7 linked regions of the Homo sapiens genome follow. The protein of the gene in region 1 purifies or fractionates together with the protein of each later gene. This does not show direct contact. Each region holds a gene or a part of one and is shown in the gene's direction. Other genes may lie near its edges. The genes, in order: SLC2A1, SLC25A4, ATP6V1D, CASKIN2, KDELR2, HSP90B1 and NUP205.

Region 1 (3,500 bases):
GAAGTAGGACAGACTCGGAGGCAGAATCGAGAGGACCTGGTGATGGATGGATGTGGGGTGGTGGCAGCATCAAGTGTTTAAATCCTAAGCTTGGGACGGGCATGTGAGGTGGGAGCGTTCAGAACAGGCACGTGCCAGGTCTCACCTCACACATGACCCAGGGTTGCGGAGGCTGCTGGGAGCCGGCGGGATTGGGCCTGTGGGATCCTGTCAGGGCATAATAAGTAGACTCTTCTTTCCTGAGGTGCACCCAGACACTTCTAGGGAGGATGTGACCCCAGAGCTTTTCCCCATGTAGGGTTCTTCTCATTCTCCAGCATCCCCCTGCCTTTCCTGGGCCAAGAGTCAGCGTGGAACCCCATACGAATCCCCAGGGAGGAGAGGGCACAGAGCACCGGAACCAGCAGTAGGAATTGGAAAACCAGGCGTGGCTTCTTCCCAGAAATCTCAGGCATCAAGAGGCAGAAACCCACTCCCCAGCCTCAGCTTGGCCAGGAAGTGCTGCTGTGGGCTGGAGAGGATGGGTCTAGGCCAAGGTGAACATGCAGAGAGCTGGCTGCTCACCCTTCCTCCACCCCATAAAGTGGTCTGAGTAACAGAGCAGCTAGGCAGCGTCCAGGAGCCAGCCCTGGACAAGGTTGGGTCCCTTTGACTGTGTGACCACAGGCAGGAGACGTAACTCAGGGTGGAGCTCTGGTCACACCTCACTTACACACAGCCCTCTTGTCAGTTGCCCCAACATCTCAAGAGATCTTCAAGCTTATTTAGGTAGTTTCAAGCCTTACTTAGCACCTATTTACTCTTTCTTTGTATACAATTCAAACAAATTCCATTTGCTGACTTCTTGGCAAATTTCAAAAGAGGTGTGGAGAGTTGTACAAGACAAGCCTCTGAACCACAGAGGGTTGGGGGAATACCTTAGAACTATGGAATGCAGAAATTTAGCCATCAGGAGCCAGTCTGCACAGGGACAAACACCTCTCCTTGCCCCTGGAGAGAGCCCCAAGGGCAGACACCATTGCCCTGCAGCCCTGCTTGTAGGTCTGGTTGCTCAGGAGAGCAAAGTGAAATCTCTTCACATTTTCACCCCATAATGGGTCAGGAAAGATTGGACCCTCAGAAGGGCAAGCGCCATTTATCTGGACCGTTCCCATATCCACCCTCATTCAGAGCAGCCTGTTCTTGGTGGAGCCTGATAAACGGGGCATTACCGTTCCCAACCAGTCCTCCTCTGGGGTTAGTTTCGTCCACAGAAGAACACTTTGCATTTTGTTACTCTGTTTTTTGTCAAAATCTGCCTTCTGTCTGCCCCCAGCAGAATCAAGGGGTTCTAAGAGGAGAGCCTAACACCTTTGGTTCGATTCCTCCATTTCCTCACCAGGTATCCCTGGCACTGGCTCTGGGACAGACCATGGTGTGAATCAACTGTCTTCCTCAGGGAAGACAAACTCCTGGAGTCAGGGAAACCTGGATCTCGAAAGGTTTCAGCAATAAGGCCAGGGGTACCTTCCAGGCAGGAGTAGTAGCATCTCAAAGGCGTAGAGGGGTGGGAGATGGTGTGTAGTGAGTGCAAAGGTGTGGTAGGTAGGGAGATTGGATTGATACCTGGCAGGAGCCCCGATTTTGAGTTACGGGTTGAAGGCTTGGGGAGACTCTGTTAGTGGTCTGCACAGCCTTCAGGCCACCAGTGTGCAGTGGGGTGATTTTAGGGATGATGACACCAAGCACTGTTTCACTGATTCCCTGCAGCACTGTGAAGCAGCTCCTGCTAATGTCTGCACTTTAGAAATGGGGCCATGGAAACTCACAGATGAAATAACTTGCTCATGGTCACACTGGAAATAAGGGGTGGAGCTAGGACCTGAATTTAGTTGTGTCCAGAATCAGAGTTCAGGTTTCTATTCACTGCCCTGCATGGCGTCCTTGGAACGGACAAGCAGATCCTTAGGGCTTGCCTCTGCCCTACCAACTGTCCTCGCCCCTTGGAGCCTGGCCTCCATCAGATGCCTGCTGACTTGGGACAGGTTGTGACAGGGCAGGGGAAAAGATGGCTAGAGGCTGAGCACCCACAGCAATGGGAAGGAAGGCACCAGGAGGCAGGCCCAGCATATTTGAATAGGTGGGCATTTCTGGGACTGCAGGCTTTGGTTTGGCAAGTGTGCCTGCCCACACCTTCTTCTTCTGCTAGACCTCAGTGGGTTGGAAGGGATAGGGAGGACCAACAGCAGTGATGGAGGCTGCAGAGGCTGCATACCGCTGTGTGTGCATGAACCTGTGGCATGCACACACACGGAGGGGTGTTGGGATGGGTTGGGTTCACATGGAATTGAGTTTGAGCTGTAAGTGGTAGGGGATGAGGGGCATGTGAGTTTGTGACTGGCTAAAGCAGGAATATTTAGATTCTATGAGCACGGGTATGTGTGTGTGATGGTATACGTGCATAAGAAGCCGTTTCTGGGTAACTAGGGCCTGCACTCTGCTATACGTGTGGCTGGGTGGGTCTGGCCAGTCCCATGGCACTGAGAGTGTGGTGAGTGTGCTCAGGCAGAACGGGTGCTGCCTGCCTACCACATCCGTGGGAGCTGGCCAGGGTGGGGGCAGGGCTGGTGGGCAGGGCTGCCCTAGGACGGGCGTTTCCAGTTCCTGGAACTGCTTCCTTGTGTGGAACCTTTCCCCATACCTCCTAGCTGGGCCCTTGGGAGAGGGGAGGAGGCCGTGGGTCCTTCAAGGGGGTGCTCGCAGGCCAGACACAAGGGAGCTAGGCCTGGGGAACAGAAAGCCACAGCGTGAGTCTTTCAAGCACTTCTGAAGGGTGACATGTGTGAGTTTGTCACACCAGGCCCTCAGTGCGGTCAGGGAGTCTGTACTTCCTGGATGGCGGAACCTGTCTGTCAAGCCCTGCTTCCTCCCCAGCAAGGGGTTGGGGGGAGGGCCTGATGGCAGGAGATGGGCCCCTGGGGCTTTGAGACATGGTGAGGAGAAAAGGGGCAAGTGGGAAGACCCTTTTCCTTCTGTATTTCTCTTTTTTTTTTTTTTTTTTTGAGACATAGAGTCTCACTCTGTCACTCAGGCTGAAGTGCAGTGGCACAGTCTTGGCTCACTGCAAACTCCGTGTCCTGGGTTTAAGCAATTCTGCCTTAGCCTCCCGTGTAGCTGGGATTACATGCTTGCGCCACCACGTCCAGCTAATTTTTTTTTTATTTTTAGTAGAGATAGGGTTTCACCATGTTGGTCTGGCTGGTCTCGAACTCCTGATCTCCAGTGATCTGCTTGCCTTGATCTCCCAAAGTGCTGGGATTACAGGCGTGAGCCACCACACCTGGTCTTGTACCTCTCTGTTCTATGCCTGAACTTCCACCACTGATCACTTGCCATCATCCCAGCAAGTCACACTGAGCCTGTGAAACCACAGGGCACTGGAAACCACACGTTAGGGGAAGTGGGAGAGTTGGCGGGGCTCTCAGATGAACTCCAACCCCTTGTTTCTCGCCTGGGGAAAG
Region 2 (2,308 bases), on another chromosome or scaffold:
TTAGTGGGATGGGGTGTTTAGCTGGGTAGAGATGGCCTGAAGCAATCTGTTGTGCCAGAGAAAGTTTTGGCTTCTATAGGTTGAACCATACGAAATTGCCACTTTAAAAGTCAAAAACAGTCCAATGTTAGCAGTTTCGTATGTTTCAACGAATAGTTACAGCCTTTTATTTAGACTGCATAACCTCGTGCAGGATCATCTGAGGCTCGGCCTCAGTTCGGTCCTCCATAAAAAAAGGTAACCGCGTAGCATAATACTCCTGCTCCACTGCGCCCTTCTTGTTTCGCAGTTGGGCAGTCCATGAATTACTTGGTTAATTGCCCCAGTTCTTCACTGACCTTGAACTAATGGAGTAGGAATGACAGGAGACCCAGCCTGCCAGTGAAGCAAGGAAGGAGATGTCCAGTGGGATGTTGCATGGAGCTGGGACTCCATGCCCAGATGACCCTGATTTTATAAAACTGGTAACAGTGTGTACAGATATGTTTCAGGGGAAAAGTCTCTTTCCTCCAGCGTTACGGAGCCCTCACCAGCATTTGTTTCCACAGCCGATATTATGTACACGGGGACAGTTGACTGCTGGAGGAAGATTGCAAAAGACGAAGGAGCCAAGGCCTTCTTCAAAGGTGCCTGGTCCAATGTGCTGAGAGGCATGGGCGGTGCTTTTGTATTGGTGTTGTATGATGAGATCAAAAAATATGTCTAATGTAATTAAAACACAAGTTCACAGATTTACAGTGAACTTGATCTACAAGTTCACAGATCCATTGTGTGGTTTAATAGACTATTCCTAGGGGAAGTAAAAAGATCTGGGATAAAACCAGACTGAAAGGAATACCTCAGAAGAGATGCTTCATTGAGTGTTCATTAAACCACACATGTATTTTGTATTTATTTTACATTTAAATTCCCACAGCAAATAGAAAATAATTTATCATACTTGTACAATTAACTGAAGAATTGATAATAACTGAATGTGAAACATCAATAAAGACCACTTAATGCACGCTTTCTATTTTATTGAACTCTTATTAACTGTAAAATGCATTTTTAAAAGATCAAAAATGCATATTTTCTAGCATGATTCATGTATCAGTCAGCAGCCAAGCTTCTAAATGCCAGATATTATATTGAGAATGTATTATATGAGAACGTACAATGCTTAAAGTTCCGGTTTTCAAACTTAGGCAGGTCATATTCTATCTATCTTATCCAGCATTACTGTAGGCTAGAAAGTGATAATGGCTTTCATAATCCTGCCTTGTCTTAGGCACTTTCCTGCAGTCTTTAGAAATTCTAAGATTCTGCTAAAAGTTTTAAATCACAATCTGGAGAATTTTCTATGATTAGGAAGTGCTCTGTTTTCATCCCTTTAGATAACTGTGACACCTAGAATTTTATGTTAAGTAGAGAGTATTCATTGAAAATCAAGGCCAGGTGCAGTGGCTCACACCTGTCACCCCAGCACTTTGGGAGGCAGAGGTGGGCGTATCACTTCAGGCCAGGAGTTTGAGACCAGCCTGGCCAACCGAGCGAAACCCCATCTCTAATAAAAATACAAAAAATTAGCTGGGTGTGGTGGCGCACACCTGTAATCCCAACTACTCAGGAGGCTGAGGCATCAGAATCACTTGAACCCGAGAGGCAGAGGTTGCAGTGAGCTGAGATGGCATGCCACCACATCCATCCTAAGCGACAGGGCAAGACTCTGTCTCAAAAAAAAAAAAAAGAAAGAAAATCAGTTGTCTTAGTTTAAGCTACTATAACAAGGTACTGTAGACTGATGGCTTATAAGCAACAGAAACTTATTTCTCAGTTCTGTAGTCTGGAGGTCCAAGATCAAGGTGACACTGTGGTCAGGTTCTGATGAGGGCCCTCTTCTGGGTTATAAACTACGGACTTCTTGTATCCTTACATGGCAGAAAGAGCGACAGAGCTCTCTGTAGTCCCTTTTATAAGCTCACTAATCCCATTCATGAGGGCCCTACCCTCATGACCCAATTACCTCCCAAATGCCCCTCCTCCAAACACCACCACTTTGGGGGTTAAGATTTCAACAGATGAATTTTGAAGGGACACAAACATTCAGTCCATAGCATCACTTATCAAGCTAGTATTTAATACCTCTTAGGCCCCGTGGAAGGGAAAATAGATAGGAACCTGCCCTGAAAGATGCTTCAGTTGGGGAGAAAAGGTGAAATTCCATTGTTAGACAATTTGTTTAAGACAATACATCTTGCTTGAGAAGGAATAGAAGGGAAATGAAATGGGGGGAGGGAGTGGTAGGAGATGGAGGCTTTGAAAGAAA
Region 3 (3,500 bases), on another chromosome or scaffold:
CTTTCTTTTGGCACTTGTATTTCCTTGCTTCATGTGATATTTAATTAAATCATATAGAATATTAAGTACATTTCATACGAAGAAGTAGAGCATTCTAGAGAGAGTCACCTGTTCACAGAGTGTCATCGTACTCTGGGCATCAGGCAGTATGATTTTCAAAGGGAATAAGGGGCATCAAGCTAGTGAAGTGAAGGTTGGTTAAAAGCTTCCTTTGTAGTTATATTTAGAATAGTATTCTTGTGGGAAACTGTATTTAGTAGCATGCTCCTATAGTGTTTGGGGAGTGAGATAGGCACTTCATGTTTACATTCAATGAAGATTAGTGAATTCATCTTTCCATATTTGTTATTATTCTGAATTATCTCCTTTTGGGGAATTTTATAGGGAAGATATTTTACTCTAATTAAAAATGTTGTCTGACTGGTCCTTTCAGGTTATGAACTGACTGGTTTAGCCAGAGGTGGGGAACAGTTGGCTAAATTAAAGAGGAATTATGCCAAAGCAGTGGAACTACTGGTGGAACTAGCTTCTCTGCAGGTAAGTAGCAAAAGACCTGGAGAACTCCTGTAGTTTGATTTGTAACAGTCAAGTGGAGGAGAGTCAGGTCTTGAGTCAGCATATACTGTGCTTTGTACTTTTAACTGTTCCCATGATCCTATGTAAAGCAAACATAATATTTTGATTTCTGAAGTGATGGCTTTTGTACCATTGTCCCTACTTTTTAAAATTTATGTATTTTTTATTTTTTTGAGATGGAGTTTTACTCTTGTTGCCCAGGCTGGAGTGCAATGGCGCGACCTCGGCTCACTGCAACCTCTGCCTCCTGGGTTCAAGTGATTCTTCTGCCTCAGCCTCCCAAGTAGCTGATTACAGACATGTGCCACCATGCCTGGCTAACTTTTGTATTTTTTGTAGAGACAGGGTTTTGCCATGTTTGTCAGGCTGGTCTCGAACTCCTGACTTCAGGTGATCCACCCGCCTCGGCCTCCCAAAGTGCTAGGATTACAGGCATGAGCCACTGCACCTGGCCCCTACTTTTAATTTAAAAATTTATTTATTTTTCGAAATGGGGTCTCACTGTGTCACCCAGGCTGGAGTGCAGTGGCATAATCCCAGCTCACTGCAACCTTAACCTCCTGGGCTTAAGTGATCCGCCCACCTCAGCCTCCTGAGTAGCTGGGACTATAGGCATGCCCCATCACACCTAGCTAATTTTTGTATTTTTTGTAGAGGTGGGGTTTCACCATGTCGTCCAGGCTGGTCTCGAACTCCTGGGCTCAAGTAATCAGCCCGCCTCATCCTTCCAAAGTGCTGGGATTATAGGTATGAGCCACCACACCCGGCCCCTGCTTCTTCTTGTTAACAAAATGTATGTGCTATGGTACACTCTTGTTTTTTTTGTTTGTTTGTTTGTTTTTTTCTTTGAGACAGAATCTTGCTCTGTTGCCCAGGCTGGAGTGCAGTGTTGCGATCTTGGCTAACTGCAGCCTGGATCTCCTGGGCTCAAGCAGTCTCCCGCCTCAGCCTCCCAAGTAGCTTGGACTACAAGTTTGTGCCACCTCGCCTGGATAATATTTTTGAATTTTTTAGTTGAGATGAGGTCTTGCTACGTTGCCCAGGCTGGTCTCAAACTCCTGGCCTCAAGAAATCCTGCCATCTCAGCCTCCCAAAGTGCTGGAATTATAAGTGTGAGCCACCTCACCCAGCCCAGTTTCACTCTTTGCTAAGTAAGAATAGCAAGTTGATACTAGATTTAAATGTAAATGTAAATAAACATCGTTTGTGCATGGAAGACCATTTTTTCCCCTATGTGGCCAGTTAGTATATATCTAGGTTATTAATGCTTGATTCTTTCTTGTCATTTTTATGTTGTTATTTAGGTGAGACTATAGTAAACAAATTATAATAGTGTCAACTCAAGTAAAGCCTGTTGAAGCAGAAATGATTTGATAAAGGTTTATTGAAAGCCAAATGTGAGGATTGACCCGGGAAGACACCAACAAAGTTGGGTGTGTTCTAGAGTCTGCTACAAGTTGGAAGGCTTTTATGGGAAAGTTTAGGAGAAGGGAGGACTCCTCATACCCAAGTTGTCCTTTTCATTGGCGAGTACAATACAGAGGTCACAATCATTGGCTACAGATTACAAATACAAGCTAAAATGTTCTACATGCAAGTAAATCATGAAGTAAAACTTCATGAATCAGAAACAAATCAGTGTCATTTTCAGCGTCAGTAGGTTGCATATTAATCAGTATGTCAGCAGTCTGAGAAACTTAAGATTTCCTTACTCAGGGACAGGATGTAAACCATGAATCATAAGATCCCTCAATCTGCCCAGGCAGGTTAATTTGGAAACCTACCAAATGTGACATGTAGGTTATCAATAGCATGGAAATAGTGTTAGCCCTATGGAAATCTCACAAGAATTTTGTTTTTGTTTTGTTATGAAGAGACAGGGTCTTACTCTGTCACCCAAGCTGGAGTACAGTGGCACAGTAATAGCTCACTGCAGCCTCAAACGATCCTCCCATCACAGATTACCAAGCAGCTGGGACTACAGGTGCATGCTACTACACCCAGCTAATTTTTAAAATTTATTTCTTGTAGAGGCAAGGTCTCATTGTGTTGCCCAGGCTGGTCTTGAACTCCCAACTTCAAGTGATTCTCCCACCTCAGCCTCCCAAAGTATTGGGGTTATAGGCGTGAGCCATGCGCCCAGCCTAAGAATTTTGTTTTTTAAGCATGCCAAAAAGAAGTTGTCTTGGTTCTCAAATGTTTTCTACAAGTGCAGTCTTAGTGGAGTCAAGTGATCAGGGAATGATTAGGAAGACTTTGTGCTTACATTATTAATTTGTTCTTATTTTAGACTTCTTTTGTTACTTTGGATGAAGCTATTAAGATAACCAACAGGCGTGTAAATGCCATTGAACATGGTGAGTATTAGGTACTGTGAGGTGCTTTGTCACTTGTCCATACCCTCCACTTGTCGTGAAACTGCTAGAATTCAGGGACTGTACTGAAGACTGAAAGATGAATAAGATGCTTCCCTTGCCCACAGTGCAAAGAGAGAAGTGTGTCCATAGTAAAAAAAAAAAGTGTTATGAAGTGTTCTGATAGAAGTACTTGTATGATCTGGGGGAGTTACACACATAGGAAAGTGGTGACTTAAAAATTATGGAATGTTTTCTTCATTTCCAGTTATTCATGCAGTTATTTAAGGGTAGGAATATTTCTCAAGATCCTTAGTGTTTTCTGTAGTTCTTTCTAATGGTTGAGTGATGCAACTTTTTGAGTACATTAAATATTTAACTTTAAATCAGTATAAGCCATTCTCCTTGATTTCTAAAAAATTTCCCATTTGATGCACTTATTTTCCATCTCTTTTATTTCACTATTTAAAAAATATGACTGCTTAGTGTTGATGGTACTTTTTGCTCAATAAACTTAGTTTTTATTAAAGAAACACTCAATTTTAGGTAAGAAAGCAAAATTTGAAGTAA
Region 4 (3,500 bases), on another chromosome or scaffold:
AGCACCCATGGAGATCCCAGTGGGGACAGTATGGGCCCTGTGCCAGCTCTTGTTGGAGGACCATCGCCCTAACATCGGGATGGTATTTGCCCACATGTCAGGAGGGCTAGATGTTGAGAGCTCCTGTCTTTGCATATGACAAGGTCAGGCACTGTACTCACAGCCCCCGTGAGCAGGTTCTGATCAGCTCATTTTACAGTTGAGGACACTGAGCATGGGAGGTTAAATGACTTGTCACAGTCACACAGCTGGTGCCTGGCAGAGCCAGTGTTGGGTAGAGGTCTGTCTAATGTCACCTTCCTCTGGGATGCCCCAGGACTGGGCATCGTGGCCTGCCCTTGAATACCTAGTGCCTCTTTCCTTCTCTCTCCCCACCCCTCGGCCCAGTAGGACAACATGACTCGCTGCCTGGCCCATTCAGGCAGGAATGCTAACCATGCACACCGTGGGCCTGTCCACTGAGGGCACATCGTGCCAGTCCCACCCCCCGCCCTCTTTGGCTCTATAAACAAGCGGGACTGGGGCGAGGGGAAGCCAGCCCACTGCCGCAGCAGCATCCTGCCCTCACTGCCCTCATGCTGCTGGGCCGGTGGGCCAGGGTGGGGAGCCACAGGGACGGGACAGGCGGAAGGCCATGGGGCAGGTGCTTTCCTGCACGCCAAGAGGTCAGCCGGGCTGTGACAGGTGGGGGGAGGGATGCTGAGTGAGGGCAGTCATCTGATGGCCCTGACACCTCCTATCCTGACCCCTAGAGCTCCTGGGCTCCACAAAGAGGCTCAACGTGAACTACCAGGATGCTGATGGGTGAGTGGGAGCCCCTGTCCCTCTGCAGAGCTGCTGGGTGGGGGCAGTAGAGCCCCAGGGGTGGGGCTGGAGGGAAAGATCCTGAGGCCCAGGGTCCCTTTCCCTCTCAGACTTGGCCCTGGAAGTGTATTTGCTGCGAGCTGTGGGCCCTGTCCCTGGGCTGGAGGGAGGGGGCACCCGCCCGCCCGTGGAGTTAGCCCTGAGTGAGGGGAGGGGCCCTGGTGCCTCTCCGCAGGGCCTCCTGGGGTCAGATTCCTTTGGGGCCCCCTTTTCTCCCTGGAGGGTAGGAGCCCTCAGGCTCCTGCTCCCACGGCCCCCTCCCCTGGGCCAGCTGGGAGGCGGGGGGGCGAGACAAACGGGCCTCTCAGTGCAGACACTGAGCCCTTTCATGCTGTGGCTCAGCCACTGCGCTCCCACGGCAGGGCTGCTGGGGTTGGGGGGGCCAGTAACCCATCCCTGCCAGCCCCCAGGATAGGTTCGGGTATGGAAGACCAGGATTTGGGGGTGGGGGCTGCCCACCAACACCCCTAACTTTGTGTCCTCCCACATCAGATTCTCTGCCCTCCACCACGCTGCTTTGGGGGGCAGCCTGGAGCTCATAGCCTTGCTGCTAGAGGCTCAGGCCACTGTTGACATCAAGGACAGCAATGGTGAGACCCCCATGTGCCCCCGACCCCCACCCTGGGCAGGTAGGGGCCCTACCCAGACCCTGGGACCAGAGCTTGCTCCTATGACAACGTAGCAATGCTAATAGATGCTAGCACAGCGTCTCTGGGCTTGCAAGTGGCTTTTCCCCGTTTACTCTTCACAGCCTTCTTGCATAGGCGAGTGGTACTAACATCCCATTATTCAGATGAGTAGGTTGAGGCTCAGCGAGGTGTTGTTGCTGTCCTGGGGTCATCATGATCCACAGTGGGCACAGCAGGACTCTGGCTTCAGCCCTGTCGAGCCGAACCTCTTCCTAAGCACACCTGGATAGAGCCAGCATTGCATCCCCGTGGGCTCTCTGCCCTCCCAGCTGGGCTGGCTCCGTACTCTGCTCAGTTCCTCTCCACCCCCAACGCCGTCCCAGGACCTCCCTCAGAAACCCTTTCCTCCTGCCAGGCATGCGCCCGCTGCACTACGCAGCCTGGCAGGGCCGGCTGGAGCCTGTGAGGCTGCTGCTGCGCGCCTCTGCGGCTGTCAATGCCGCCTCGCTGGACGGACAGATCCCCCTGCACCTGGCTGCACAGTATGGACATTATGAGGTGGTACGTGAGGCTGCCCACAGGGGCGTGGCGCAGGGCAGGGTGGGGTGCCGGACAGGCCAGGCCCCCTCACTCGGCTCCCCCAACCCCAGTCAGAAATGCTCCTCCAGCATCAGTCCAACCCATGCCTGGTCAACAAGGCCAAGAAGACGCCCCTGGACCTGGCCTGTGAATTTGGCCGACTCAAGGTGAGGCCTGCAGCCTTGGGGTGCTGGGTCCTGGACATCTACAGGGTCTCAGGAGGAGGCTCTAACTGGGCACTGGGTGCTGCAGGTGGCCCAGCTGCTTCTGAACAGCCACTTATGTGTGGCACTGCTGGAGGGTGAGGCCAAAGACCCGTGTGACCCCAACTACACCACGCCCCTGCACTTGGCTGCCAAGAATGGCCACAGAGAAGTCATCAGGTACCCTTGGGGTCCCCTCGCTTCCTCATCACCTGCCTGCGGGACCATCGGTGCCCCTCAGTGCTCTCCCCCACTGCCCTTTTCACCCGGGCTCTCCATCTCCCAGGCCCCCAGCAGTCAGCACCCCCTCCTACGCCACCTCCCCCGTGACTCCCCCCGTCCACTGCAGGCAGCTCCTGAGAGCTGGGATCGAGATCAACCGCCAGACCAAGACGGGTACGGCGCTCCACGAGGCCGCACTGTATGGCAAGACCGAGGTGGTGCGGCTGCTTCTGGAGGTGGGTATGGGCCCCTGCTCCCTCGCAGGTGTCCATGGAGCCTCTGCCCTGTGCCCCTGACTGGCTGGGGAGGTACGGGACGGAGGACTCCAGCGTGGTTTTTGCATGGGCGTCAGGAAAGAGGCCTGACTTCCTTCTGAATGGTGCCGAGGCGGTGCAGATGGATCGGGGGCAGACCAACCTGATTGGCACCCCAGATCTGCCTCTTACTAGCTGAGTGAACTTGAGCTTGTCCTTGACTGAGTCCCTGAGCCTCTATGTCCTCATCTGTAAAATCGGAAAATGGTAATAGTACCTATGTCCCGGGTAGCTGAGAGAATCGGGTGAGGGGTGTCAAAGTGCTTAGCGTGTGCTCATGTGACACTGTGCACCCAGGGAGGTGTGGACGTGAACATCCGGAATACGTATAACCAGACGGCGCTGGACATAGTGAATCAGTTCACCACCTCCCAGGCCAGCCGGGAAATCAAGCAGCTACTGCGGGGTGAGTGCGGGGGAGGATACCCTGCCCAGGGGGCCTGGGGCCGCTCAAGTGGTACCAGGATGTGGAGGGGGAGTGGACGTCCCTGGGGGAGGGTTGTCAAGGGCATGAGGGGTGGGAAGATGCCCTAAGGACCCTTAGATGACACCTGTCCCCCACCCCGTTTTCTTAGAGGCCTCAGGGATCCTGAAGGTCCGAGCGCTCAAGGATTTCTGGAACCTCCACGATCCCACTGCTCTCAATGTCCGGGCAGGGGATGTCATCACGGTGAGGGACCCCAAGCAGG
Region 5 (3,282 bases), on another chromosome or scaffold:
TGTAGATTCATAGAAAATTGAAGAGGGAAGAATAAACCTGGAGAGACAAGGTGATGAAAATTCAAAGAGGTAGAGGTGTCCAGGTTACCCAGCTTGTCACACTGGCAGTGCCTTGCCTCTTAAAGGTTGCTTAAGTTTCTGTGATTTATGCCAGGAGTCCTCAACCCCTGGGCCACTGACTGGTACTGGTTCATAGCCTGTTAGGAACCAGGCCACCCAGGAGGAGATGAGCCGTGGGTGAGCAAGTGAAGCTTCATTGTATTTATAGCTGCTCCCCATCACTCACATTACTGCCCAAGCTCCACCTCCTGTCAGATAACTGGCAGCATTCAATTCTCATAGGAGCATGAGCCCTATTGTGAACTGTGCATCTGAGGGATCTAGGTTGCATGCTCCTTATGAAAATCTAATGCCTGATGATCTGTCACTGTCTCCCATCACCCCCAGATAGGACCATCTAGTTGCAGGAAAACAAGCTCAGGGCTCCTACTGATTCTGCATTATGACGAGTTGTATAATTATTTCATTGTATATTATAGTAATAACAGAAGTAAAGTGCACAATGATTGCAATGTGCTTGAATCATCCCGAAACCATCCATCCACCCTGCTGGTCTGTGGAAAAATTGTCTTCTATGAAACCGATCACTGGTGTCAAAAAGGCTGGGACCACTGGGTTATGCAGTTGCCAAGCTGTTGTTCTATTTTGGGCCGACATGCCCCACTCCCCACTCATCTTAGGCTGCTTTGTGGTAAAGAAAGCAAGAGTGTTTCCTCTGAGCTCCTGGTGGGCAGTGGGTCGTGATGGAAGCTTGCCATTTCTCTTCCAGATCCTCTGGACCTTCTCCATCTACCTGGAGTCCGTGGCTATCCTTCCGCAGCTATTTATGATCAGCAAGACTGGGGAGGCCGAGACCATCACCACCCACTACCTGTTCTTCCTGGGCCTCTATCGTGCTTTGTATCTTGTCAACTGGATCTGGCGCTTCTACTTTGAGGGCTTCTTTGACCTCATTGCTGTGGTGGCCGGCGTAGTCCAGACCATCCTATACTGTGACTTCTTCTACTTGTACATTACAAAAGGTATGTTGGGTGCGACCTGCGTTGTTTCTAGAGTGACGTGTTCTTTTAGGAGTGCCCTTGCCCAGCACTCTTCTAATCTGGCACTCTCTCATAAACTGGCTCCAGAGAAACACTTTCATGATTGGCCAATAACATTCTGGATCAGGATGTTGTCTTTTTAAATATAAGAACCCTTTTTCTTTTGCAATAGCTTTTCCTAAAGTGACACATTTTCACTGTAAAAGATTCATCTGGTGTTTCAGTGAACATTAACACCAGATACCTCTCTATGCATACACAGACACATGACTTAAACTGTACATTGCTGTTCTATACACTGCTTTTATCCCCTCACATTTTTCATGTCACTAGAAATCTACATAATTTTCAGTAGCCACAGAGTGTTTCATTATGTGCATGTACCATAATTTATTTACCCAGCCCCCATTCATGGGTGGTCAGGCCGTTACTGGTTTGCTGTTAAAATCCAGTCATTAAATCAGCATCCTTGTGTATATGTGTTTTTGCATTTGTATGAACATAGGACGTGTGAACTTTACAAATATTTGATGAAAGCTATCATCCTTGTTCAGAAAAAAAAAAACATTTATGCCAGGTGCAGTGGCTCACGCCTGTAATCGAGCACTTTGGGAGGCCGAGGCGGGCGGATCATGAGGTCAGGAGATCGAGACCATCCTGGCTAACACGTGAAACCCCGTCTCTACTAAAAATACAAAAAACTTAGCCAGGCGTGGTGGTGGGCGCCTGTAGTCCCAGTTACTCGGGAGGCTGAGGCAGGAGAATGGTGTGAACCTGGGAGGCGGAGCTTGCAGTGAGCCCAGATCGCGCCACTGCACTCCAGCCTGGGTGACAGTGCGAGACTCTCTCTCTCAAAAAAAAAAAAAAAAAAGATATTTACGCAAATGCACCCAAATGCATGTATATAGTTTTGAGGGGTTCAGGAGCCCCTGAAACCCAACCACAGATCCCAGGCTAAAAATCCAGCTATACAATAAAATTCCTAATGGTGGAATTGCTAGGTAAAAAGCATATATAGGTCGGGTGCGATGGCTCACGCCTATAATCTCAGCACTTTGGGAGGCCGAGATGGGTGGATCGTCTGAGGTCAGGAGTTCAAGACTAGCCTGACCAACATGGCGAAACCCCATCTCTACTAAAAATACAAAATTAGCCGGGTGTGGTGGCACATGGCCTGTAATCCCAGCTACTTGGGGGGCTGAGGCAGGAAAATCTCTTGAACCCGGGAGGCAGAGGTTGCAGTGAGCTGATATCACGCCATTGCACTCCAGCCTAGGGAACAAGAGCAAAACTCTGTCTCAAAAAAAAAAAAAAAAAAGAAAAAAAAGAGCATATATGTCTTATCTCTTTCCTTTTGTTTTTTTTGAGACCGAGTCTCTCTCACCCAGGCTAGAATGCAGTGGCTTGCTCTCAGCTCACTGCAACCTCTGCCTCCCAAGTTCAAGCGAGTCTGCTGTCTCAGCCTCCCGAGTAGCTGAGATTACAGTCGCGCACTACCATGCCTGGCTAATTTTGTTTTGTTTTGTTTTGTTTTGAGACTGAGTCTTGCTCTGTCACACAGGCTGGAGTGCAGTGGCGCAATCTCGGCTCACTGCAACCTCCACCTTGCAGCTTCAAGTGATTCTCGTGCCTTGACCACCCTAGTAACTGGGATTACAGGTGCGCACCACCACGCCCGGCTAATTTTTGTATTTTTAATAGAGACGGGGTTTCACCTTGTTGGCCAGGCTGGTCTTGAACTCCCAACCTCGTGATCCGCACACCTCAGCCTCCCAAAGTATTGGGATTACAGGCGTGAGCCACCACGCCTAGCTTTTTTTTTTTTTTTTTTTTTTTTTTTTTTTTTTTTTTTTTTGAGACAGAGTTTTGCTCTTGTTGCCCAGGCTGGAGTGCAATGGTACAATCTTGGCTCACCGCAACCTCCACCTCCTGTGTTCAAGCGATTCTCCTGCCTCAGCCTCCTGAGTAGCTGGGATTACAGGCATGCACCACCACGCCCAGCTAATTTTTGTATTTTTAGTAGAGATGGAGTTTCTCTATGTTGGTCAGGCTGGTCTCGAACTCCCGACCTCAGGTGATCCTCCTGCCTCAGCCTCCCCAAGTGCTGGGATTACAAGCATGAGCCACTGTGCCCAGCCTAATTTTTGTATTTTTATTAGAGATGGTGTTTCACCATGTTGGC
Region 6 (3,500 bases), on another chromosome or scaffold:
GCCCCTTACCCAATCTTTGTTTTGGAGATAATACCAGCTTCAATACAAAGAGTAAAATTGCCTTAAATGTCTACCACTGTCTACTATAAGGTAGACAACAAGTTTACGAAGGGATTTCTCCTACATTTGATTGAGAAAGAAAAGGTCTTTGACTCATGATTTTCTGATTTTATTGTATTTGATATGTAAATGGGAATTTTCTTAATGTGTTATGCATAGTCTTTACTTTTGCATTGGATTATATGCTTAGCCTAATATCTGAATTTATTTTACATTTTTAAATGTAATAGCTGCACGAGGTTAATGACAACATTCCTCAAGTGAGTTAAGTCCATTTCAAATCACGTCCCCCACACCCCCAAGCATTAAATTATGGGTATCCAGATAGAATGTCTCATAAAGTAGACGGTACAGGACCTGTGAATTAACAGTATTTGAACTCAAGGGCCTATACCTGGAGGTATAGTGAGTCTTTGGTACTCTTTATTTTCAAGAAATATAGTATTTCAAGTTTATGTTTTAATGTCACAGCAATGATCTTGAAAATGACTTCTCCCCTACTTTTATTCTCTCTTCTTTCACCTGGAGTATGTTTCTGATATGCTATCTAGTCATCATCCTTTTTTCCCAAGGCCTAGCTTAAGGATTCTTTTTTTTTTTCCCCCGAGACAGAGTCTTGCTCTGTCACCCAGGCTGGAGTACAGTGGCGCAATCTCTGCTCACTGCAACCTCCGCCTCCTGGGTTCAAGTAATTCTCCTGTCTTAGCCTCCTGAGTAGCTGGGATTACAGGCACCTGTCAGCACACCCGCTAATTTTTGTATTTTTAGTAGAGACGGTGTTTCACCATGTTGGCCAGGCTGGTCTCGAACTCCTGACCTCATGATCCGCCCTCTGCGGCCTCCCAAAGTGCTGGGATTACAGGCGTGGGCCACTGCGCCTGGCCAGGATTATTATTCTTAAAGCCTTTTCTCACAAATGTAGTCTCCATTGTTGTCACAATTCTAAAATTCCATATATGTCTTTTAACTATAAATTTCATGCAGAGAATAGTGTTCTGTTTATCTGATATCCCATTGCAATAGTACAAGGGCCATTTAAAACATGTCCACCTATTAATTTCAGGAAATGATTAATAGGAAGTTACCTTGCATCCAACAAACATGAAGACTTACTATGTCCATGCACTGATGGTCACAGGTAGACATAACTCCTGTCTTTTCTAACATTTAGACTAGTGAAAATGACAAATCAAAGCCAGGCATGGTGACTCACTCCTGTTGTCACTCAGGAGGCTGATGCAGGAGTATCAGTTGATTCCAAGAGTTCGAGGCTGTAGTGTGCTGTAATGGCATTGCACTCTAGCTCTAGCCTGGGTAACATAGCCAGACTCCGTCTCTTTTTTATTTAAAAAAGAGGAAAAAAAGCAAGTCATAATCCGAGCCCTACATAGATAATGGGTACACCAGGATAGGGAAGGATGTGGTTCCTCCCTGTCCTCAGAGCTTTAAACTAGAGAAGAGAGAATAATCACAACCAACAGTAAAAAGCTAAGGATTTTGAAGGTATATTCAAAATGCATTTGGAACTGAGCTCAGATAAAGTTAATTTTTCTTGGAATCATTGGCGAAGGCATCGTGGAGAAGGTATTATTATTGGAGCACAATCCAGAGGCTACATAGATTTTTCTGAACTTGGGGAGGCAGAGCTACAATTACGGTAGTAAGAATAAACTAAGAGGGAACAAACAGGACATTAAATCAGTTCGTCTGTTCAGCAGTGCTCCAGGTACTTGGGACTCATCAGTAAATAAAATAGTTCCCTTCATTTCATTTTTCATCTAACCGTGTCCACTTGCTCCCCACCCCACCTCCCCGTTAAAAGGGAGCAATACAGGCTGGGCACATGGCTCACGTGTGTAATCTCAACACTTTGGGAGGCTGAGGTGAGAGGATCACTTGAGGCCAAGAGTTCAAGACTAGCCTGTGCAATATAGTGATACCCTGTCTCTATAAAAACTAAATAAGGAAACAGTGCAGTCATCCCTTTTTGTCCATGGGGTGTTGGTTCCAGAACATCCCATGGATACCAAAATCCACACATAGTCAAGTCCCTTAGGTAAAGTCGTGCCGTATTTGCATATAACCTATGCACATCTTCCCATGTACTTTAAATAATCTATAGATTACTTTTAATACCTAATGCAATTTAAGTGCTATGTAAATAGCTATTATACTGTATTGGGTTTTTTATTTTTTTCTTGTTTTGCCCTTTCTAATATTTTCAATCCGAGGTTGATTGACTCTGCAGATAAAGTAGACTGGAAAAGTACAGTCGTCCTTAGGTGTATGAGGGAGATTGGTTCTAGGACCCCTGCCAAAATCCACAAATATTCTAGTCCCCCAGTCTGCCCTGTGGAACCCGTGTATATGAAGAGTGGGAGCTCTGTGTGTGTGGATTCCACATCCCAAGAATACGGTATTTTCTATCTGAGTTTGGTTGCTGAACCTGCACATACGGAGGGCGGACTGTATTTATTGGAAAAAAAATAGCATATAAGTTCAAACCTGTGGTGTTCAAGTGTCAATAGTACATTTTGATTTTTTTTTTTTACCAAGAGTTGTTCTGTGTAATTATGAAAGAATAAGGGAAACGTATGAACCCTAAAATTGGATATGTTTTGTTAATGTTCATTTTTATCTCTTAACAGTTACTATGCGAGTCAGAAGAAAACATTTGAAATTAATCCCAGACACCCGCTGATCAGAGACATGCTTCGACGAATTAAGGTAGTATTAAAGCAGTCCTCTTGCTTGTCTTTTAATTTGAGTACTTTGTATCTTTTAATATTAATCTAGTGCATCTTCTTGCATTTCAGGAAGATGAAGATGATAAAACAGTTTTGGATCTTGCTGTGGTTTTGTTTGAAACAGCAACGCTTCGGTCAGGGTATCTTTTACCAGACACTAAAGCATATGGAGATAGAATAGAAAGAATGCTTCGCCTCAGTTTGAACATTGACCCTGATGCAAAGGTTTGTATCCCCAACCTTCCCGCAAAGGCTGGCTGGCTTTCTTTGTTTCTGTTCTTTCAGAATAGGCCTCTCATGATTGAGGGATGTAGCTTTGCGACATTTGCCTAATTTCTACCTTTTGAAAGAATTTTATTGAATGTTTGAATCCCTGTAGTGTCAGGCACTGCACTAGAAACTAAGTCCTCCTTTTACGTCCTCTTTCCTTTTTGCCTGCCTCCTTTTGTTAGCTTGGCTGTTCATTCTAGTTAAGAGGATTTAGTCTGTGGTTCTGAATAAACAGAAGTGACATTAATTATGATTTTATACATATAAATGAGCAAAGTGGAAATAAATCCAAGGCATTAATGGGCCCATAAATGTTGTGTTTAGGTGGAAGAAGAGCCCGAAGAAGAACCTGAAGAGACAGCAGAAGACACAACAGAAGACACAGAGCAAGACGAAGATGAAGAAATGGATGTGGGAACAGAT
Region 7 (3,500 bases), on another chromosome or scaffold:
CAGCTACTCAGGAGGCTGAAGCAGGAGAATCGCTTGAACCCAGGAGGCAGAGGTTTCCCAGATTGCGCCACTGCCCTCCAGCCTGGGCAACAAGAGTGAAACTCTGTCTCAAAAAGAAACACAAAAGTCTTTGTTATTCCATGATATGGATGAAACACTTATCTGCCATTTTCCTTATTCACAGGCATTTCAATTGTTTCTAAATTTTTATTACAAAAATGCTACATCAACTTTTTTTATATGCCTATATTTCTCAAAAAGGATACTGCTTAATGGTGGAATTTCCATGTGTAAAAGTATGTACTTTTATTTTAAAAAGATTCAAATGAATGACCTTCTCCAGTATAAACTCATCAATAGTATACATGTATCTTTTTGTACTAGTGAGGTTTTGTTTGGATAAATTCCAAGAAGTGGAATTTCTTGGTCAAAAGTTAGGCACATTTAAAATATTGCTAAATGCTGCTTTCTAAAAAGTTAGCATTTTTAATTGAAACTAATCTTAAGACATGAAAATGTTATTAAGTGTTCAACACATCAGTATATAATGCTTTATATACTTTATAGACATTTGATGTTCAATCAAGTTATTCAGAGTTATTCTGCCATTTGTTAAGAAGTTGTCAGAGCACCTTCTGATAATGGATTTTCTTTGGGCTCTTCACCTTTGTGAGTGTTATTTTGTATACACTGTTAAAAACCACTGTGTACGTAAGGTTGACTTGATCTCATTATCCTTATGGTGGTTGTATTTTATGCCATACATAGTACCCTATAAGGTAGTAATAGCCAAATGGTAGATTTATAGGCATGTAGCACCCACATAAATAATGCATGAGAATATTTGTAAGATGAGGAAAAATAACAGAATAGTTTAGAGAAGTTTTTTAAGCAAACATGAGCTTCTTTTAAGAAAAGAGATAGTAATGGGATTTCTCCACTCAGCACCTCCCACATTTTTCTTTTGTGTGTGTGTTTTTCTTAACATTCCATTTAGTTGAATTGGCCAAGTCACCACTTAACCACTAGGTGGGGCTCTACAATAGGCTTTTTATAAGAAGTCATCAAGATGCCAATTTAAAAACTGCTGCTATGTAGCAGTTGGAAAAAATGAGATTAGTTTCCAATACAAGTTATTGCTTTATTTAATGTACTTGTGAAATTTTTAAAGAGTCTCACATAAGAGTATGTTTGTGGGTCTTACATAAAATGTATGATCATACTGTTCCTAATCATTGTATAATGGTTGTGCTTTTATTTTTATAATAGGTGTGCTTTTATTTTTAATAAGTATTTCAACTAAAAAAAAGAATAAAAATATCTGATTTTTTTGGAGGCAAATTTTTGTCTACATTGTACCTGATCCTTTCTAGCTAAATTTTCTTTTCTTTTCTTTTGTTTTTTGAGACAGAGCTTCACTCTGTAGCCCAAGCTGGAGTACAGCGGTGCGATCTCAGCTCACTGCAACCTCCACCTCCTGGGTTCAAGTGATTCTCCTGCCTCAGCCTCCCCAGTAACTGGGATTATAGGTGTGCACCACCACGCCCCACTAATTTTTTGTATTTTTAGTAGAGACGGGGTTTCACCATGTTGGCCAGGCTGGTTTTGAACTCCTGTCCTCAAGTGATCCACCGCCTCGGCCTCCCAAAGTGCTAGGATTACAGGTGTGAGCCACCACGCCTGGCAATTTTAAAAGATCTCAATAAAAGATAAAAGATTGATTAGCGGCTGGGCACGGTGGCTCACACCTGTAATCCCAGCACTTTGGGAGGCCAAGGCAGGCAGATCACGAGGTCAGGAGATCAAGACCATCCTGGCCAACATGATGAAACCCCATCTGTACTAAAAATACAAAAATTAGCTGGGCATGGTGGCATGCACCTGTAGTCCCAGCTACTGGGGAGGCTGAGGCAGGAGAATCGCTTGAACCTGGGAGGTGGAGGCTGCAGTGAGCCAAGATCATGCCACTGCACTCCAGCCTGGAGACAGAGCCAGGCTCTGTCTCAAAAAAAAAAAGAAGGAAAAAAAAAAAGACTGATGAGCAGGATAAATACAGGACGTTGGTTCTCATGGAGTCTTGTAATTCATTTTGATCTCTTTCAGAATGATTTATCCTTTTCCAGGTACAATTATTATCTTAGTGTTATGAAACATGCATGAAATAGGTGCATTGTGTTATTAGAGTTAACCTGCTTGGACCCACCGGTCAGTGGGCCTTTGTGTACAAGCAGTGATGGAAGGATTTTTTTGTTGCGTTTTTTTTTTTTCTTCCTTAGCTCATACCTAGCATGTGAGGTATAATTACTCAGTTATTACACTGCTTTTTACTGGAGTGTTTTTTTCTGTTTTAATCCTTTTAGCCAAGAAAACCATGTGGGAAAGGCTGACAGCCCCTGAAGATGTATTTAGCAAATTACAGCGAGAAAACATAGCCATTATTGAAAGTTATGGCGCCGCCCTCATGGAAGTGGTCTGTCGAGATGCTTGTGATGGTCATGAGATTGGAAGGGTAAAGCAACTCTTATTTAGTATTATAATTGAATAAGTATTTTGACTTATTAAGGTATAAACTGATTCACGGCTGGGTGTGGTGCCTCATGCCTGTAATCTCAGTGCTTTCGAAGGCCAAGGTGGGTGGATTTCTTGAGTATAGGAGTTTGAGACTAGCCTGGGCAACATGGTGAAACCCCGTCTCTACAAAAAATACAAAAAATTAGCCAGCCATGGTGGCATGCACCTGTAGTCCCAGTTACTTGGGAGGCTGAGGTGGGAAAATTGCATGAGCCCAGGAGGCAGAGGTTGCTTGCGGTGAGCTGTGATCGAGGCACTTCACTCCAGCCTGGGCTGCAGAGTGAGACCCTGCTGCAAAAAATAAAATAAAATAAATTGATTCAACTTTTAATAATGTATGGTACATATTAAGAATCATTTTTTATAATATACTGTATTTTCTTATTTGCTATAATTTGAGACTTCTGTTTTATTTATTCATATGTTGTGTTTAATTTTGTTAGAATCTTAATTCAGAATTGCCTTTCAGAATTATCTTCTTGCTAATTTTGAGGTTGACTGGTAGAAACAACAGAAACGCTGCTTAATAAAGATCTTTGGTTAAGAGAATGCTGAATAAATTGCCTTGTACTGAATAGATCTTTGTCTGCCTAATTGCTTTGTGGAGAATTTGTATTTATATTTCTTGTACAGTATGGTGGCACACTGGTAATGATGCAGTGAGAAGATAACTTCTTCTTAATGGAAAATTATGTAGCAAAATTATGTAGCAATTAAATCATGTTTTTGAAGACCATAGGAAATAGGATTTTAAAAAATAAACTGGCATAACCTTTTAGTTACGTTTCTTTGTTTGTTTGTTTGTTTGTTTTTGAGATGGAGTCTCGCTCTGTCGCCCCGGCTAGAGTGTAGTGGCGCAATCTCGGCTCACTGCAAGCTCCGCCTCCCGAGTTCACGCCATTCTCCTGCCTCAGCCTCCCAAGTAGCTG

What was found.
Region 2: the proteins of SLC2A1 (region 1) and SLC25A4 purify together in Homo sapiens (affinity purification with mass spectrometry; one large-scale study listed by BioGRID and IntAct). This does not show direct contact.
Region 3: the proteins of SLC2A1 (region 1) and ATP6V1D purify together in Homo sapiens (affinity purification with mass spectrometry; one large-scale study listed by BioGRID and IntAct). This does not show direct contact.
Region 4: the proteins of SLC2A1 (region 1) and CASKIN2 purify together in Homo sapiens (affinity purification with mass spectrometry; one large-scale study listed by BioGRID and IntAct). This does not show direct contact.
Region 5: the proteins of SLC2A1 (region 1) and KDELR2 purify together in Homo sapiens (affinity purification with mass spectrometry; one large-scale study listed by BioGRID and IntAct). This does not show direct contact.
Region 6: the proteins of SLC2A1 (region 1) and HSP90B1 purify together in Homo sapiens (affinity purification with mass spectrometry; one large-scale study listed by BioGRID and IntAct). This does not show direct contact.
Region 7: the proteins of SLC2A1 (region 1) and NUP205 purify together in Homo sapiens (affinity purification with mass spectrometry; 2 studies listed by BioGRID and IntAct, with this or other methods). This does not show direct contact.

The regions. Positions count from the first base shown.
Region 1 is NC_000001.11:42,931,369-42,934,868, reverse strand, and holds part of SLC2A1 (solute carrier family 2, facilitated glucose transporter member 1), read left to right. Parts: intron 1-3,500. UniProt on the Homo sapiens protein: Facilitative glucose transporter, which is responsible for constitutive or basal glucose uptake. Has a very broad substrate specificity; can transport a wide range of aldoses including both pentoses and hexoses.
Region 2 is NC_000004.12:185,146,266-185,148,573, forward strand, and holds part of SLC25A4 (ADP/ATP translocase 1), read left to right. Parts: intron 1-548; coding exon 549-706; 3' UTR 707-2,308. UniProt on the Homo sapiens protein: ADP:ATP antiporter that mediates import of ADP into the mitochondrial matrix for ATP synthesis, and export of ATP out to fuel the cell.
Region 3 is NC_000014.9:67,342,805-67,346,304, reverse strand, and holds part of ATP6V1D (V-type proton ATPase subunit D), read left to right. Parts: intron 1-433; coding exon 434-537; intron 538-2,866; coding exon 2,867-2,933; intron 2,934-3,500. UniProt on the Homo sapiens protein: Subunit of the V1 complex of vacuolar(H+)-ATPase (V-ATPase), a multisubunit enzyme composed of a peripheral complex (V1) that hydrolyzes ATP and a membrane integral complex (V0) that translocates protons.
Region 4 is NC_000017.11:75,505,538-75,509,037, reverse strand, and holds part of CASKIN2 (caskin-2), read left to right. Parts: intron 1-752; coding exon 753-804; intron 805-1,356; coding exon 1,357-1,454; intron 1,455-1,908; coding exon 1,909-2,054; intron 2,055-2,143; coding exon 2,144-2,239; intron 2,240-2,324; coding exon 2,325-2,455; intron 2,456-2,624; coding exon 2,625-2,733; intron 2,734-3,108; coding exon 3,109-3,217; intron 3,218-3,386; coding exon 3,387-3,481; intron 3,482-3,500.
Region 5 is NC_000007.14:6,463,871-6,467,152, reverse strand, and holds part of KDELR2 (ER lumen protein-retaining receptor 2), read left to right. Parts: intron 1-829; coding exon 830-1,082; intron 1,083-3,282. UniProt on the Homo sapiens protein: Membrane receptor that binds the K-D-E-L sequence motif in the C-terminal part of endoplasmic reticulum resident proteins and maintains their localization in that compartment by participating to their vesicle-mediated recycling back from the Golgi.
Region 6 is NC_000012.12:103,943,910-103,947,409, forward strand, and holds part of HSP90B1 (endoplasmin precursor), read left to right. Parts: intron 1-2,708; coding exon 2,709-2,787; intron 2,788-2,876; coding exon 2,877-3,032; intron 3,033-3,401; coding exon 3,402-3,500.
Region 7 is NC_000007.14:135,620,417-135,623,916, forward strand, and holds part of NUP205 (nuclear pore complex protein Nup205), read left to right. Parts: intron 1-2,360; coding exon 2,361-2,509; intron 2,510-3,500. UniProt on the Homo sapiens protein: Plays a role in the nuclear pore complex (NPC) assembly and/or maintenance. May anchor NUP62 and other nucleoporins, but not NUP153 and TPR, to the NPC.